Regions from separate parts of the Homo sapiens genome. Here regions 1, 2 and 4 are each reported to be linked to region 3. The links are microRNA targets in miRTarBase. Many come from high-throughput screens and were not tested one by one. Region 3 holds a microRNA gene; each other region holds the end of a gene's coding sequence.

Evidence for each region. Region 3 holds the annotated microRNA hsa-miR-15a-3p (CAGGCCAUAUUGUGCUGCCUCA, at 2,647-2,668, shown strand). A microRNA usually pairs through its seed, bases 2 to 8, with sites in the 3' UTR of a target mRNA and lowers its output. Matches are read on the target gene's strand: a 7mer-m8 pairs with bases 2 to 8, a 7mer-A1 pairs with bases 2 to 7 and ends in A, and an 8mer does both.
Region 1: the mRNA of LONRF3 is a reported target of hsa-miR-15a-3p. The part of its 3' UTR that is shown has no 7-base or 8-base seed match.
Region 2: the mRNA of SPTA1 is a reported target of hsa-miR-15a-3p. Seed matches in the 3' UTR shown: 7mer-m8 at 3,354-3,360.
Region 4: miRTarBase lists TAF1D as a target of hsa-miR-15a-3p. The part of its 3' UTR that is shown has no 7-base or 8-base seed match.

The regions. Positions count from the first base shown.
Region 1 is chrX:119,017,108-119,021,173 of GRCh38, reverse strand. It overlaps LONRF3 (LON peptidase N-terminal domain and ring finger 3), which reads right to left. Exons shown (of 11, transcript NM_001031855.3): 11 at 2,819-3,639. The coding sequence ends at 3,484. Among named protein-coding and RNA genes, the nearest start is that of LONRF3, 45 kb to the right of the region's middle.
Region 2 is chr1:158,607,815-158,611,880 of GRCh38, forward strand. It overlaps SPTA1 (spectrin alpha, erythrocytic 1), which reads right to left. Exons shown (of 52, transcript NM_003126.4): 52 at 2,890-3,575. The coding sequence ends at 3,450. OR10Z1 (olfactory receptor family 10 subfamily Z member 1) reads left to right here. Exons shown (of 2, transcript NM_001004478.2): 2 at 1-4,066. Among named protein-coding and RNA genes, the nearest start is that of OR10Z1, 4.6 kb to the left of the region's middle.
Region 3 is chr13:50,047,732-50,051,797 of GRCh38, reverse strand. It overlaps MIR15A (microRNA 15a), which reads left to right and starts at 2,597; the gene lies at 2,597-2,679. DLEU2 (deleted in lymphocytic leukemia 2) reads left to right here. Exons shown (of 14, transcript NR_152566.1): 6 at 2,136-2,214. MIR16-1 (microRNA 16-1) reads left to right here and starts at 2,737; the gene lies at 2,737-2,825.
Region 4 is chr11:93,732,830-93,736,895 of GRCh38, forward strand. It overlaps TAF1D (TATA-box binding protein associated factor, RNA polymerase I subunit D), which reads right to left. Exons shown (of 6, transcript NM_024116.4): 5 at 3,865-3,922; 6 at 2,738-3,475. The coding sequence ends at 3,332. It overlaps SNORD5 (small nucleolar RNA, C/D box 5), which reads right to left and starts at 471; the gene lies at 399-471. SNORA18 (small nucleolar RNA, H/ACA box 18) reads right to left here and starts at 768; the gene lies at 637-768. MIR1304 (microRNA 1304) reads right to left here and starts at 935; the gene lies at 845-935. It also overlaps SNORA40.

The DNA.
Region 1 (4,066 bases), not on the chromosome of region 3:
ACATCCCAAAGAAAGCCAAAGCTTAGCCTTGCATCCTGCCTTGCAACTAGACAAAATATTTAACATAGTGGAGGCTCAGTTTTCTCATTCATAATATGGGGATAATAACTGCTCTCGCAGGGTTGGTATGAGAAATAAATGATGTAATGAGCTCAGGTATGTGAGATCACTTGGCTCAGTACCTGGTACATGGGGATCTCAGTACATTTTTTGTTGAATCTGTTACTTTGGGCAACATAAAGAAATACTATCAACTAAGAACAGAAGTCACAGATTGTAAACTCTCATCATCTGGGATGGGTAAGGTTCTCAATACATTTTGGAGAACAGGGAGTGAAAAGTTGGTTATTCTAATGGAGCTAGAACTTAAGGCTTCCATTCTATCAGAAATCCTAGGCTGGGTGCGGTGGCTCACACCCACGCCCGTAATCCCAGCACTTTGGGAGGCCCAGGCAGATGGATCACCTGAGGTCAGGAGTTCGAGACTAGCTTGACCAACATGGTGAAACCCCATCTCTACTAAAACTACAAAAATTAGCCAGGCGTGGTGGTGCGTGCCTGTAATCCCAGCTACTTGGGGGGCTGAGACAAGGGAATCACTTGAACCTGGGAGGCGGAGGTTGCAGTGAACTGAGATCGAGCCACTGCACTCCAGCCTGGGTGACAGAGTGAGACTCAGACTCGCACACACACACACACACACAAAAGAAAGAAAGGAAAGGAAAGGAAAGGAAAAAGAAAGGAAGGAAGGAAGGGAGGGAAAGAGAGAGAGAGGGAGGGAGGGAGGGAACAAAAGAAAAAGAAAGGAAGGAAGGAAGGAAGAAAGAAATCCTAGACCTACATAGGGCACTACCTTCTAGCCCTTATTGAAGCAGGAAAAAAATTTCTGGTATAGGATTGATCCCTATCTCTGACCCTCATTTGTTCTCCAGTTATTTCACTTTCACACACATTTAATTCCCAAAAGAATTATCTGTAAATCATCAAATTATGGGTCCAAAAATCAGTGGTATGTATTCCCCCAACTAAGTTTAAAGGGGTTTCAAGTGGATATTGTGTGTAAAGGCAGTGTTTTATACAAATGTAGGCCCTTGATGATATTCTATAACTATGACTAATCTAATAGTAGCTATTATTTCTTGAGTGCATTCTAGGTGTGAGACACTGTGCTAATTGATTTACACATTATCTCATTTAATTTTCGTAACAACCCTATATGCAGAACTTATCACTATCATTTCATAGATTAGAAAACTGAGGGTTGGCAAAAGTTAAATCAATTGCCAAAAATAATATATCTAATAAGTAGAGAAGCTTAGGGCCTTTTTCTTTGTTGCATTTACACTAGATAACCAGAAACTATTAGGATTGTGTTATGACCACATGGTCTGGGAACCAGGTGGGAGGGGGAGTCTTTTCTGCTCCCTGAGCTTTGTGGAGTTTGCTTGCGCAGAAATAATGCCTATACTTCCGCCTATTTCTGTTCTTCACCTGCCCAGACTAGCTCCAAACATCAAATCTGATAAACACAACACTCTGGCAACATAATGTCCATTAAGTGAGTGCAGAAAAGACCATCTGGTTTCTGCTTACATGCATCTTTTTTATGTTGTCTGGATCATCTCATTCTCCCTTTCCTGTTTCTAGCTACAGGTGGTGATGGGAGAAGTAAGAATTACACTCTCACCTTAACAGAGTGATGGGCTGTGAATGAATGATGCAAAAATCATTCACTGTCCAAAATCACATGGTATAATTTGCATGAAGGTACTAATGGCACAATTCACTTCCTCCCTGCTCTAATCGTTTCACTCTGCCATTATAACACTCCCATACTTGTGGTACTTTACAGGCTGTCCTGCCACTGAAGGACTCAAACTAGCACTAAGCAAGCTAAATCAGGGCTTACTCTTACTCCTCACCCTATATTCTCCCCATACATTGAAATATTTCACCCATGCAACTAGAAGCAAAGGCAGTACTTAGGTAAAATAATAGATTATCTGGTTCCCTTTTTTTTTTTTTTTTTTTTTTTTTGAGACGCAGGTTTGCTCGTTGCCCAGGCTGGAGTGCAGTGGTGCAATCTCGGCTCACTGCAACCTCCATCTCCCAGGTTCATGTGATTCTCCTGCCTCAGCCTCCCAAGTAGCTGGGATTACAGGCATACACCACCAAGCCTGGCTAATTTTGTATCCATTTTTAGTAGAGACAGGGTTTCATCATGTTAGTTAGGCTGCTCTCGAACTCCTGACCTCAAGTGATCCGCCTGCCTCGGCCTCCCAAAGTGCTGGGATTACAGGCGTGAGCCACCGTGCCCGGCCATCTGGTTCCTTTAAAAAGATTTTTATAGGGTTCTACTCTATTTGTCTTATTTACATTTTAATAATAAAAAGTCCTTATCAAGTGTTTCTGTCCAGGTCTTGATCCTCAGAACCCCGGGGAGAGGTGGGTTATGGAGGCTAGTTGGGCATGACTGTGATGTGCTAAACTGAACACCATTTCCTCTGAAGAGTTAATTATGATCCTGCCCAAAATCCGATTCCTAACTGCACTGGGGAAAAATTAGATACACGTACAATTAGATTGCTGAAGTAAATGCCTATAATAAAAATAATTCTTTCAGCTTTGTTCTGTATTACACACAGAAAATGAATTATTTTACTTTACCTTGGCATATACCATAATCTAGGCCAAATCCCTTAAGTATTTTATATTGTTTAGTTCAAACTGAAAAAAAAAAGTGGACTCTGAAGACAGATGATCTTAGCATCATTCTGAACTTCTTTTAAGCATCCATTTGGATAGATACGGAAATGGTCTAAGAACTAGTGTCATTGTAGTAAAAAAAAGATAAAAGCAAAAACTGCACACTTCTAGTATTGTTATTTCCCCCTAGGTACATGGTAAACCACATCAATAAATAAAGCAATGGACTTTTCAGCAATGTACGCTTAAATAGTTACAAACATACATGTAGAAAAAAGGATACAGTAGTGCAAAAAATAAATTATTAAAACAGAAAGAAGTATGAACATTATTTTACACAATGCTCTATAAAACCTGAACCATTTGGAATGAGACCTCAAGTCAGTGAAATTATACAGCAACATTATTAGTATCTTTGTTTTCACATTTCAACCACACAGTCATTGATCTATGAAAGAAAGAATATTAAAGCAAAACCACTTTAAACTTTTGGAAATTTTAATGTTAAAATCAAATTATGTTTTTCTGGGCTCTTAAACACCTCTGCTGTTTATGTAGTTATGCAGCATGTCAAGAAGCATCTTAAGACAGAAAGTTTCAAATAGGTCACATTCTTTTGGTCTTTCTACTCAATTTCTCTCTGTGATCAACAGCAGGCTGATGCCTCTGTTTGACACCCCCTTCTGTTAAGATATTATTGCAATTAGATATATTTACAAGAAGACTCCCCCCGACGGCAGTGGGGAAGGTGGGAGCTCCTCTTCGGCAATCCACTCACTAGTTTTGGTTTCGGGATATGAAGGCCAGGACTCGTCGAATACCATTCAGTCTGTCCTTTAAGGACCTCATTGCTAGGAAGGGGAGCTGAGCTCGGCTTTCCAAGGGAAGAACTGCTAACATCCACCAGCACCAGGCTGGGCCATTCGGGTTCATCTGCAACAGAGAAACACAATGGAGTCATCCTATTCCCATCCAAGAACATCAGTCTGCAGAGTTCCAAATGCTCAAGGTAAAGACCCCAGGTAGAACAACTCCATGTGGCAGATTGCTAATTGACCCTATATCTATTTTCCCCCTTATTTTAGCAGGGCATATAGCCACCCAGAAAAAAGACTGCATTTCTCAGCTTCCCTTGCAGCTAGGTGAGGCCATGAGACAAAGTTCTGGCTAATGAGATGTAAAGGGAAGTGATATGTGTAACCTCTTGGTCATGCTCTGGGAAAGAAGCATATGCCCTCTGCCTTCCTCTTTCTCTCCCTTTCCCCTAGCTAGAACATGGACGTGGTGAGGATCAGCCTTTCTCAATCAAGAGGATGAGGGAGACATTTTAAGGATGGTAGAGTTTTGTGATGAAGGAGCC
Region 2 (4,066 bases), not on the chromosome of region 3:
GTAATGTTCTTCCAAGATTTGAAACCTGGGGAATATCAGCTTGACAGGTTAGTTTAAAGCTTTGTTAAATGAACAGGTGGGTCATTTTTACTCCCACTGGGTGTCTTTCATCTTTTTATGTTTTTATTTTTTTTAATTTCAACTATTATTTCATATACAGTGGGGCACATGTGCTTATACATTCCTCATTGTGCTATTGACAGTAGCAAAAACATGGAATCATCTTTTTATATAGTTGTCCTCACTATCTCTGACTCTGTTACTTTGCCCTTTTTGTTTTGATTGATTTTCCAAGCTGGGTGCACTCTATTTCAGAAAATATATTTACTTCCTATTTTTTTTTATAACTGTTAATGTTCCCTGGTAGCTTCAGAATCTTGAGTGTCAAAGACCTTTCTCATTTGGGTCGCTTATCAAATTGGATACTGTTCTTTTGAATCTATTGCAGAACTATCTATTCTGCCTATTCCACTTTCCACATATAATGTGGTTATATATAGCGGCGGACATTATTAGAGAAAGTGTAATGAACTCACAAGACCGTCAGGCAGGAGTTTGAATCCAAACTCTTCAACTTACTAGCTGTGTGACTCTAGGTAAGTTATTTAACATTTTTTTCAGCTTCCGAGTCTTATCTTTACAATGGTTGGTGACTAAACAGGATCATGCATACAAAGAATTTAGCACAACCCTTGGATCATAGCGATCGTCCAATAAATTCCAGTTGCTACTATTAAAATGTGTGAAGGAAAAAGATATTGGCTTTTAGTTTAGGTAGAGTTTACTCTAGGTGGAGGATCAGAGAAGACTTCATGTCTTAAATAGTATCTGAACTTGTTCCTAAAGGATGGGTGAGCTTTGAATGCACTGACTGGGGAGAAAGTACATTCTCAGAAGAGAGAATGTAATAGCCAAAGGCTTGATGGTAAGACAATATAAGCCTAGTTTAATGTGTGTGAGTTATTCAGAGGGGCTGGAAACAACTCACAAATGATGCTGAGAAGTTAGTTTGAGTCATGACTTACTTGTTGAAATAATTTGAATACCTTGCTTCAGACATGGTCCTTTTGTCTATAGGAGATAAGGCACAGTAAAACGTTGAACAGAGAGAGGCATCTGGGAAGGGATTCAGGAAGATTAATCCAGCAGCAAAGGGGATGATAGATTTCAGTAGAGAGAAACCAGAGGCAAGGAGATCAGCAAGAAACCCATGGATATCAGCTTAAAAAAAGGCAAAGAGGCTTGAATATGGATAGTGACATTCAGAGACTGAAGGAAATCACAAACATGAGATTTTGAGAAGGTAGAATTCACAGGATTTGGCAGTGAGATAGAAGTGGGGCATGGCTTGAGAGACAAGGAAAGACCTTAGGCCGAGAAGATATTTTTCAGACAGAAATCCATATTTTTTCATGCTTTCAGGAAAGAAATACATCCTCTAATTGGAATTTGATGAAAACAATTTGAGAGGAAGGAAGCTAGAGCTCAGAGAAGAGAACAGGATGAAGACAAGTAGATGAGTTAGTCAGATAGCCAAAAGGGCCTCATCAGGGGAGAAAGGCCATCTACTCTGAAGTTCTCAATATTGGAAGAAGTAATGCCTCATTGCACTGAGGCCATGTGAGCAAATTCATTTCACCAGTTCATTCAGTCTGCCCAGCATAACATTGACTAAATGCACAGTGACGAATGGTTAGTAAGGATGTTTCAAGTATTGCTAAGTAATACTTAGAGGTCTAACTTCCACATGTAGTAGTCTTAAGTATGGAAGGGTATAAAATCACTTGGAGGGATTTTTCCAAATAGGTGTTTTTGGAATCTATCTAATTTGTTTCTACCTTGAAACAATTGATTTGGGATAGGGACAACATAATAGTCTTCAAAATCTCGTTTGGTGATTCAAATTTCCTCTCTTGATTAAGTATGTGACTACGCGCTTAGAAAGGGCAAACTCTTCTTCCAGGTACACACATTTGACCCACTAAATGACTAATAATTTGATTTAGGCCTTGAAAATTTTTGGCAGGGTTAGCATTGGGGGAATGGAATCACATCCACCTTTGCTTGTGATTATTTTCAGCACAAATAGTTTTAGACTATCCATATGTGGTAAGTGTGATATTAAACAATGCTAATTTTCGATGGCCTATATCTTTTCTAACTGTACTATTTTTGGTAACTTATAATCAGGCAATTTAGACATTTGTGAACATTAATTTTGAAAATACTTTCTGCTTGTTATATTCCATAGTATTTGACTATTTAAGAAAAGAATCACTAAAATACCTGTATGTTGTTAGTATCAATGATAACTTTTTAGCTTTAACCAACTTTTTGTTTAAAAAAGGCTCCTATGACAGGATTTGTCCTGCACAGATTCATTTCTATGCAGAGGAAGGGACTGAGACTTAAGATGGTAATCAAGTGGCAACATGAATGGATTGGTAAGTGGGGACTATTTGTGCAGAACGCTAGCAGTTTTATACACAGCAATTAAGATATCTAAGAATTCTCACCAGCAAATGACACCATTACCTTTTATAGATCAAATCAGAATGTCGGCATATAAACCTGTTCAGAATAAACCTGGCCTGAAAATTTTTGAAGATAGCATCACCTCTTCTTTTTTTAAAATTAATTCTTAATTTTATAAATAATTCTATTAACTGTTACTTTAACAGGATATTGAAGTATTATTTTTATTACATTAAAACTTAAGAGAAAATACGGGAGCTTGGAGGACAAGAGAAAGCCCTGCTATGCTGGAATTTTGTCTTTCTGAGAGTAATAACATCTACAATAATTTTGAAGTATGGAAAAAAAACAAGAAGAAAACAGGTGTTATGCTGATCTGTGTGTTGTTTCATTGTACAAACTAAAATATTCATGTTCCCCAGAAAATCAAATATCTTTATTTTCAAATTTAAATTTAAACACATTCCAAAGTTTAAAAAAATTGTTTGAAAATTGCCTTGGATTTTATTTATCTACTATACCATGGCCCTTCTTTACAGTAAAATTAGCTGCCCACTCTTATATGAGTACAGTTCCCAGAAATATAGAAGCTCAACATTTTACTTAACTTTGCCCCAAAAAATATTTTTAAAAAGAATTACTTTATTCTATAATCGGAATAAAGCAAAATGATAAAGACGTGCAAAACAGAACAAATAAAAATAGAAACTTTGACACCCCTCAGCAGTGACTAGTTGCATACAAAATAGCTTCCACTCCTCCAACTCTATTAACCTTTCTATCTCCCACCCTTGAGATTTTTTAAGATCCTACAATAAATGTAATATGCACACAAACACAAGCACACACACACACACACACACACACACACACACACGAGGCCATCTTTATCTTCCACATTTGCCTGTACTCTTTGCCCCCCAGTAAATTTCCCACGACACTAAGATTTTCTACGATCCACGAGGAGCTGCTTATTAGTTGCCAAAGTAGGAATTGGTGAAGCCAACGTAGTCATAGCCAGAGAGATGGCTTCGACCCCGTGGGTCCATATATTGCTGCATATGTGTGGCACAGAATGACACTTGCTCTGGGGTAAGGGCCTGAAAAGTATAAAAAGAGAAAAATACAGTTATAGGGATTCAAAATAGCTGGTTCCTTGGGGCTTCCCATATTACGCCATAAATGCAGGAGATGGAGAGTCTCTGGAAGACGCAAGCCCTATTTCTATTACACACAATTTTTATCTCATAAATTTATAATTTCTAATGAGTAACTTAACTTTTAATCTCAGCCCTTTCTTGAAAAAGAGAGCTTACTCACTTTGATTATTCTGTAAATCTCATTCCCTAAAGTTGTTTTATTAAATAGAAGGAATTATATGCCTAACAACATTTGTTGACCACTTGATCTATTTCATCTTCCTGGCTGCTTTGAGATGTGGGGACTAGCATGTTTTATGAGTAAGGTAAAATACTCAAGAAGGTAGAATAACTCACCAGTGGTTACACTGCCAGAAAGTGGTAGAGCTGGGACTTGAACCTATGATCCTCTTATGCCAAAGAGTTCCTCTATTCACTGTGCTGTTTGATTA
Region 3 (4,066 bases):
GGAGATTGAGACCATCCTGGCTAACATGGTGAAACCCCGTCTCTACTAAAAATACAAAAAATTCGCCAGGCGTGGTGGCAGGCGCCTGTAGTCTCAGCTTCTCGGGAGGCTAAGACAGGAGAATGGCATGAACCCAGGAGGCGGAGCTTGCAGTGAGCCTAGATGGCACCACTGCACTCCAGCCTGGGCGACAGAGCAAGACTCCATCTCAAAAAAAAAAAAAAAAAAAACCTGTCCTTTCTCCCCAGCGATTTTCTTAATGGTGTCTGGGAACTCATCTGCTGCCTCAAAGCCGCTTCTCCTGTTATCTTGACATTTTTAAAACCAAACGTCTTTCTGAAACTCAAACCATCCTTTGCTGGCACTAAATTCTTCAGCTTAAGATCCTTCACTTTAAGTTGTCTTAAAATGACTTTACTCTTTCTGAAAAGAGACTGTCTATCTGGTATACTACCAACTAGTGTAATAACTGGGACAGTGCCTGGCACATAGTAGATATTCAATAAAATATTTGTTAAATAATTTACAGGCACCTTTTATATTTGAAAAAAATTATGTTTAAGTTTTTATCTGGAAAATGTATGTGATGAGGGGGACCCTGAAGGACAATTCCTTAATATAATTGATAAATACAAATATATGTTATATATTTCTCAAGTGAATGCAAACGGATTTATCTTGGTTACATGTTAAAAATTGTGCAGGTCAGGATGGGCGCAGTGGCTCACCCCTGTAATCTCAGCACTTTGGGAGGCCAAGGCAGGTGGATCACCTGAGGTCAGGAGTTCAAGACCAGCCTGACTAACATGGTGAAACCCTGTCCGTCTCAAAAAATAAAAAAAAAGTGCAGGTCAGGCATGGTGGCTCTTGCCTGTAATTTTAGGACTTTGGGAGGCCAAGGCAGGAGGATTGCTTGAGGCCAGGAGTTCAAGACATCCTAGGCAACATAGCAAGACCTTGTCTCTACAATAAAATAAAAATGTAAAGAGCTGTGCATGGTGGTGTGTGCACTTGTAGTCCCAGCTACTTGGGAGGCTAAGGTGGACTGATCACTTAAGCCCAGGAGGTCAAGGCTGCAGTGAGCTACGATCATGGCACTGTACCCCATCCTGGGCAACAGAGTACCCTGAGATGAGAAGTAAAACAAATCCTGTAGCTCTTGATCTTCCTATTCCCTACCTATTTCCGGTCCATTTACCAGGTAAGGAAGTATACTCCTAAAGTTTCCACTTACTCAGATGTAGAAATGAATTTCTTTTTCTCTAAAAGATACGGAAACTACTCTCTTAAAAAAAGAAAAAATAAAAATTTAAAAAACGTTGTGCAGAAACTTGAGACAATAAGGAGCAGAGTTATATGTGAAATCCAGGTTGCTTAGATAGGAGATTAGCTACATATATTTTTTATTAATGGGAAAAATACTCAGAAAAATTTCATATGGAATGTGACCCTGTGCTTTGTATAAGTAATTAGATATTAGAATGGAAGAGCAAATTTTAGTGCTTTGGTTGTGTACATCACCTTACTATTCTGTAATAGATGTAACTTTAGCATAGTCATTTTAATGATGAGAACATGGGGCAAAAAAGATTGTCCAGGCTTGAATGGTGGCACCACTAGAGTGGTGGCAATTTTCTGATATCTTTTAGAGAAAAGGAATTTCATTTCTACATCTGAGAAAGTGGAAACTAGGAGTTTCTTCCTTACCTGGTAAATGGGCCAGAAACAGGGAATAGGAAGATTAAGAGCTATGGGATTTGTTTTATTTCTCATCTCAGGGTACCAAATTAACTCATCATCCCAAGGATTCATATTTTAGAATTACTTAAGGATTCATATTTTAGAATTACTGTATCAAATGATATCCAACTCTAAGAGAACTTCTAGTATGAAGATCAATGTTGAAAGTAAAATATTTAGATTATTAATAACAAATTATTTAAGGGAGAATTAGTTTGTTTAGAGCTTTTTTTCTTAACTATATTTGGAATTAAAATGTCTTAATTAGATATTTAATAAAATTAACATTTAGAATTAAAGTATTTTTCTTTAAAAGTATATTTGCATTTTGCTAGCTTAAGTTTATTGAAACTGAGCTCTTGTATGTCATTTCATGTTTTTCCCTTGATGTGAAGTCTTACCTATTTGATGAAGATGTCTTTTGAAAGGTGTACTGCAAGGAACAAAATGTTTGTAAATTCTCCTTTTACCAAGGTAAAGATCAAATTTTATAAATTTACTTGTTTGTTTATACAAGGAAAAATAACTTCATATATTGAATATATTCAAAAGTTTAAGCATTTAGTTGTATTGCCCTGTTAAGTTGGCATAGCAAATAAATGCTTTTCTTTTCCTCATTTTATTCTTTGTGTTTCCTAACCTATAGCACTGTGCTGGGCACAGAATGGACTTCAGTTAAGTTTTTGATGTAGAAATGTTTTATTATTCTACTTAAAATCTCCTTAAAAATAATTATGCATATTACATCAATGTTATAATGTTTAAACATAGATTTTTTTACATGCATTCTTTTTTTCCTGAAAGAAAATATTTTTTATATTCTTTAGGCGCGAATGTGTGTTTAAAAAAAATAAAACCTTGGAGTAAAGTAGCAGCACATAATGGTTTGTGGATTTTGAAAAGGTGCAGGCCATATTGTGCTGCCTCAAAAATACAAGGATCTGATCTTCTGAAGAAAATATATTTCTTTTTATTCATAGCTCTTATGATAGCAATGTCAGCAGTGCCTTAGCAGCACGTAAATATTGGCGTTAAGATTCTAAAATTATCTCCAGTATTAACTGTGCTGCTGAAGTAAGGTTGACCATACTCTACAGTTGTGTTTTAATGTATATTAATGTTACTAATGTGTTTTCAGTTTTATTGATAGTCTTTTCAGTATTATTGATAATCTTGTTATTTTTAGTATGATTCTGTAAAAATGAATTAATACTAATTTTTCAGATGTATCATCTCTTAAAATACTGTAATTGCAATTTAATAATTGTATTGAATGCCATCAAGTTTTTTTAAAAAGCTTATGCAGCATTAGAGGAATTTATTTTAATGCACATTTATATTCAACATAGACATTAATTCAGATTTTTACTTGGGATAAAACAAATTCTAGTTTTCCCTTTGTTTTGAAATTACTTTTAAAATATGTCTTTACAGATAAATATAAAATATATTAAGCATTTTGAACAGAGCTTAGAAGACAATATTTAGTACTGTTTCTGAATATTTCTTTATATCTGAAGGGGAAAAGCCATCAAAATATGTGAATTAAATACCTAAAATTCTGGTTGTCAAAACGTCACACTTAACCATAACTTTAAAGGTAGAAAAACCCTTACAAGTGACCAACCCACTCATTGGATAGCTAAGGAAACACAAAACTCAAATAATTTGCTACACATCACAGATTGGGGTCTTAGTCTTATGTCTTCTAACTTTATAATGGTATACTATTTTTTTCATGTTTTTATTAAAATGTTTTCTTAAATCCTTAGCCAAAGATTTTTGTTTGATAAGTCAAAAATAAGGTCTTGTTTACTTTGTTTACTTTTTTGTATTCAAGATTTAACTCAGAGTAAGACCAAATTATCATTGTAGTTTTATTGATATAAAATGTCAACATAATTTAATTTTTTTTTTTACTTTTTTGTATTTTTAAAATTTTTTATTAAAAATAAAAGTAGACAGCCAGGTGCGGTGGCTCACGCACTTTGGGAAGCCGAGGCAGGCGGATCACCAGGTCAGGAGATCAAGACCATCCTGGCTAACACGGTGAAACCCCATCTCTATTAAAAATACAAAAAAAATAGCCAGGCGTGGTGGCGGGCGCCTGTAGTCCCAGCTACTCGGGAGGCTGAGGCAGGAGAATGGCATGAACCTGGGAGGCGGAGCTTCCAGTGAGCTGAGATCGCACCACTGCACTCCAGCCTGGGTGACAGAGGGAGACTCTGTCTCAACAAAAAAAAAAAAAGAAAAGAAAAGTAGAGCTGGGCACAGTGGCTCAAGCCTGTAATCCCAGCACTTTGGGAGGCCGAGGAGGGTGGATGAC
Region 4 (4,066 bases), not on the chromosome of region 3:
CACACAGGTTTACGTGACTTTAGGATGAAATATGTGTAACTGCCAGTTGAATAATGATGCAAAGAACACAGGTAGTTTCGTTTGGTAGGTATAGACATGCAGTCTCTTCATTTTCCTTCTCTATACAAATATATACATTGTAATATTTTTGCCAGTATCTTACTAATTCTGTGTTATACCTGAAATACTGGGATGGTGTAATTTCTATTTTTCATCTTTTGAGTCCTTGATTATTATAAGTTAAATATTTTACTTACCTCTCAACATGAATGAGTTCAAATCACATTCATTCCTATAGAAAGTACCAATTAAAGATTTAGAAAGGATACATTTCCAGTTATTAAAACTAAAACCCAAGTATAAATTTAAGATCCAGTTTATTATACAGCCATATCCAGCTCTGTCAGAATTAAGTTTTAGTTCATGCCCGTTATCATTCAGCAGTTGAACAGTTAAATTCATCATCTGAACTGTAATCATTATTTCCCAAAAGATTATACTGTCACCAATTAAAACTTACCTAAGCGATCACTCAAGAATGGTACAGATGTGTGGAGTATGCCAATACCTAAGGTAAAAAAGTAGATTATCTGGTTTTTCATAACGTTTAGCAACCGTCTTTTTCAAACTTTTAGCAACTGTCTTGTAATTCCTTCCCACAGATCTAACAATAGTCCTGTGAGTAAAGTAAAACCACAGAGTTACTCTATGAGGCGTTTCCAACGATGTGCAGGCTACAGGAAAAGCCCCATCGGGATAGACCTCAACCACTATTTACAAGGTTTTGATTTTTTTTTAAAGACACAGGATCTGCCATGTCTTTTAAAAATCGTGTGATTCTTGCTGAATCACTTGAGCCCAGGGGTTCGAGGCTACAGTGAGATGTGGCAGGATCACATCTCACTGTAGCCTCAAACCGCTGGGCTCAAGTGTTTCTCCTGCCTTAGCCTCCAGAGTAGCTGGGGACCACAGGCACCACTGTGTCCAGCTAGTATTTATACACATAAATAACAAAGTCTAACACTCCATAGGAAAGAAATTATGAGCAGAAACTGCAATATGCTCTTACAATATTGCCAACTGCAGAAACTTCCTACTACGTTAATCACAAAAACAATAATTTCACAATCACGTTGTGCTTAGGAGCCAGAGGAATGATAAATAAAAAGTAACATCAAGTAGCTCCTTTACATGAACCAAAGGAAAAAGATTTAAACTTAAGATTTAAGTTTAAAGTCTAACTGTTGTTATGAACTTCAGTATTGCAACAGAGGATGTTGTTTTCCCAATTCGAAGATTTCAGCAAATTTTAATTCTTGGCTCAAAATTAATTGTCATCCATTATAAAATACAGGAATATAATGTGCCTGTAAGTTACGACTTTGGCATTATATAACTTTTAATCAAACTCTACATCATTCAAATTTATGAATTCTTATGACCTGTGTAATCATCTTTTATTATACTATATTTTGCATTAAACCATAAAATCCTCTGCCTCATTTTAGATTGTGCATTAATTCAAAATAATGCTGTAGGCTTCAAGTAGGAAATCCAAAGTTCTGATTATTGCTACAAACTAACAAATTCAGGACCCTCTAATGCTTGCAACTAAAATGAATCTGACACATCACTATAAAATGTGTGAATCTAGGATTCTTCTTTTCAGAAATCAGTATAAATGGGAATTAAAAGCATGGTAGAAATGTCCCTGAATAAAATGAAACTTGCTCTGACAACATACTGTTTCCTACACATAAACAAATATGATGTGAAAACTCAAATTGAGACATACCTTTAACTCCAGACACCATGTTCTCAAGATAAAAGCCTTTAAAACAAAAAGCCATTGTGTATATCATCAACATGAAATTGGAATGCAAAATTAATACTGCTGAGGATTTCCCTCATATCCCATGCTGTTTATCTATTCTACAGGCCTGGAATCAACCTTTTTTTCTTAAGAGACAGGGTCTGTCTTTGTTACTCAGGCTGGAGTACAGTGGTGCCATCAAAGCTCAGTGCAGCCTCCAACTCTGCCTCAGCCTCCCCCCTTTCTGAGTAACTCCAACTACAGGCACATGCCCCAGTACCCAGCTAATTTTTAAATTTTTGTGGAGATGTGTTTCTTACTTTCTTGCCTAGGCTGGTCTTGAACTCCTGGTTTCAAGCAATACTCCCACCTTGGTGTGGGGATTGCAGGCTTGACCCATTGCACCTGGCCTGGAACCAACCTTTATGGCTATCAATACTCCCATCAATCAACTGTCTCAGGTATCATAATATCCCTTCTTATATGTATCAAAACTCATACTGAACAATGAGTTCTGGGTTGCAAAAGAGGATTTATTTTTTGCACCTATCTGTAAGTCTTTGTCCACGTTAAACAAAAACATACATAAGTGCAGTCCCAAAATGCACTACATAGCAGAGTAGTCAGCTCTATCGTGGTGATCAAAATAATGAACATCGGGGTAATGACTGGTTCTCCCCAGGTATACATGTTGAATAAATGTGTATGCCTTTTCTTGAACTAATAAAAAGTGAAAATGGTAGTTAAAAGTAGTATTAGGCCAGGTGCCATGGCTCACACCTATAATCCCAGCATTTTGGGAGGCCAAGGCAGGCGGATCGCCTGAGGTCAGGAGTTCGAGACCATGGTGAAAGCCTGTCTCTACTAAAAAAACAAAAACTAGCTGGGTGTGCTGGCTAACGCCTGTAATCCCAGCTACTAAGGAGGCTGAGGCAGAATCGCTTGAACCCGGGAGATGGAGGTTGCAGTAAGCCAAGACTGCGGCCATTGCACTACAGCCTGGGTGACAGATCGAGACTCTGTCTAAAAAAAATAGTATTAAAGATACTCTAAATTTGGAAAGGGAAATGAGGTTATTACAATACTAAGCATCTGACAGGTCACTTGTCATGGCTGAACAAAGCTGGGATAAAATTACAGCATTTCAAATCCCCTCTTCAAGATGGTTGGGTGTCAAGTTACTTTAAGATTTTCTTTTCAAAATTAAAATCACTACATTTCATTGTTTCAATACTCACAGGACACCTGTAAGCTCTTATTCAGAAATCAAATGACAATTTCTCAAATTTTTCTATGTATTTTCTCTGGTGTTTTAATGGTTTTTTTTCTAATTATTACTACTTCACAAGTTTCTTTCACAAACTTCTTCACAGGGTTAAAAATTTTTTTTCTTGTTATAAAGTTCTGGGTTTCAGAATTTCTTCACCACCAGACTGGTACATATATCCACATTTATCTTTATTCATTTCTATGAAGTCGTTTTTTCTATATGCTTCACCTTTGACATTCATGATCCTGTCACATTTTCAGGCCTCTCTGTCCAGTATTTTTGGCTTTTGTAGCTCTCTTTTTAGACAAAGCAGCTTCTTCAGTAATATCCTCTTCTTCTAAGTATACACTCAGTCTTACAGGGAATTCAGAACTTACTATGAAACTATCCCCCTGCATAAAACAAACAAAAAATCATGGATTAAGCAATAACTCAAATAGTTTAGTAATTACATATAGCTGAATGCCCTGGATTACTTCAGATAACCTAGAGACTACATGTAGATGTTAAAAATCCAAATTAACATTGCTTATTTTTTCATTTGACATCCTAACTAGCAATAATATGTATCAGAATGCTACTTATTAAAAATAGTACTGAAAACCCCATGTTCTTTATCAAGTCTCTAAAAAATTATTTTCCTTCTTGCATTTCCTGCAGTAAACTTATAGAGCTTTTCAAAAGTTAAATGAAGTGTAAGAGAAAAACTAAATATAATTCCTTCTGTATCAACCAACTCCTGCCTTCCCAAAATGGAATAGGAAAAAAATAAGTCACTTACTGCCAATTTGATATCACATTCGTTATCTTCAAGATGTGTTGCATCCTCATCCTCTGCTCTGTAATATTAAAATTTATCATCGAGATGACAGAATCTTCGATGACCTAATTAGTTGTATATTCCACTCTGAAATATAACTGAAACTGCAATACTAGTCAAAGGAAACACAAAATTTGAGAATTTTGTGTTCTGGAGAATTCTA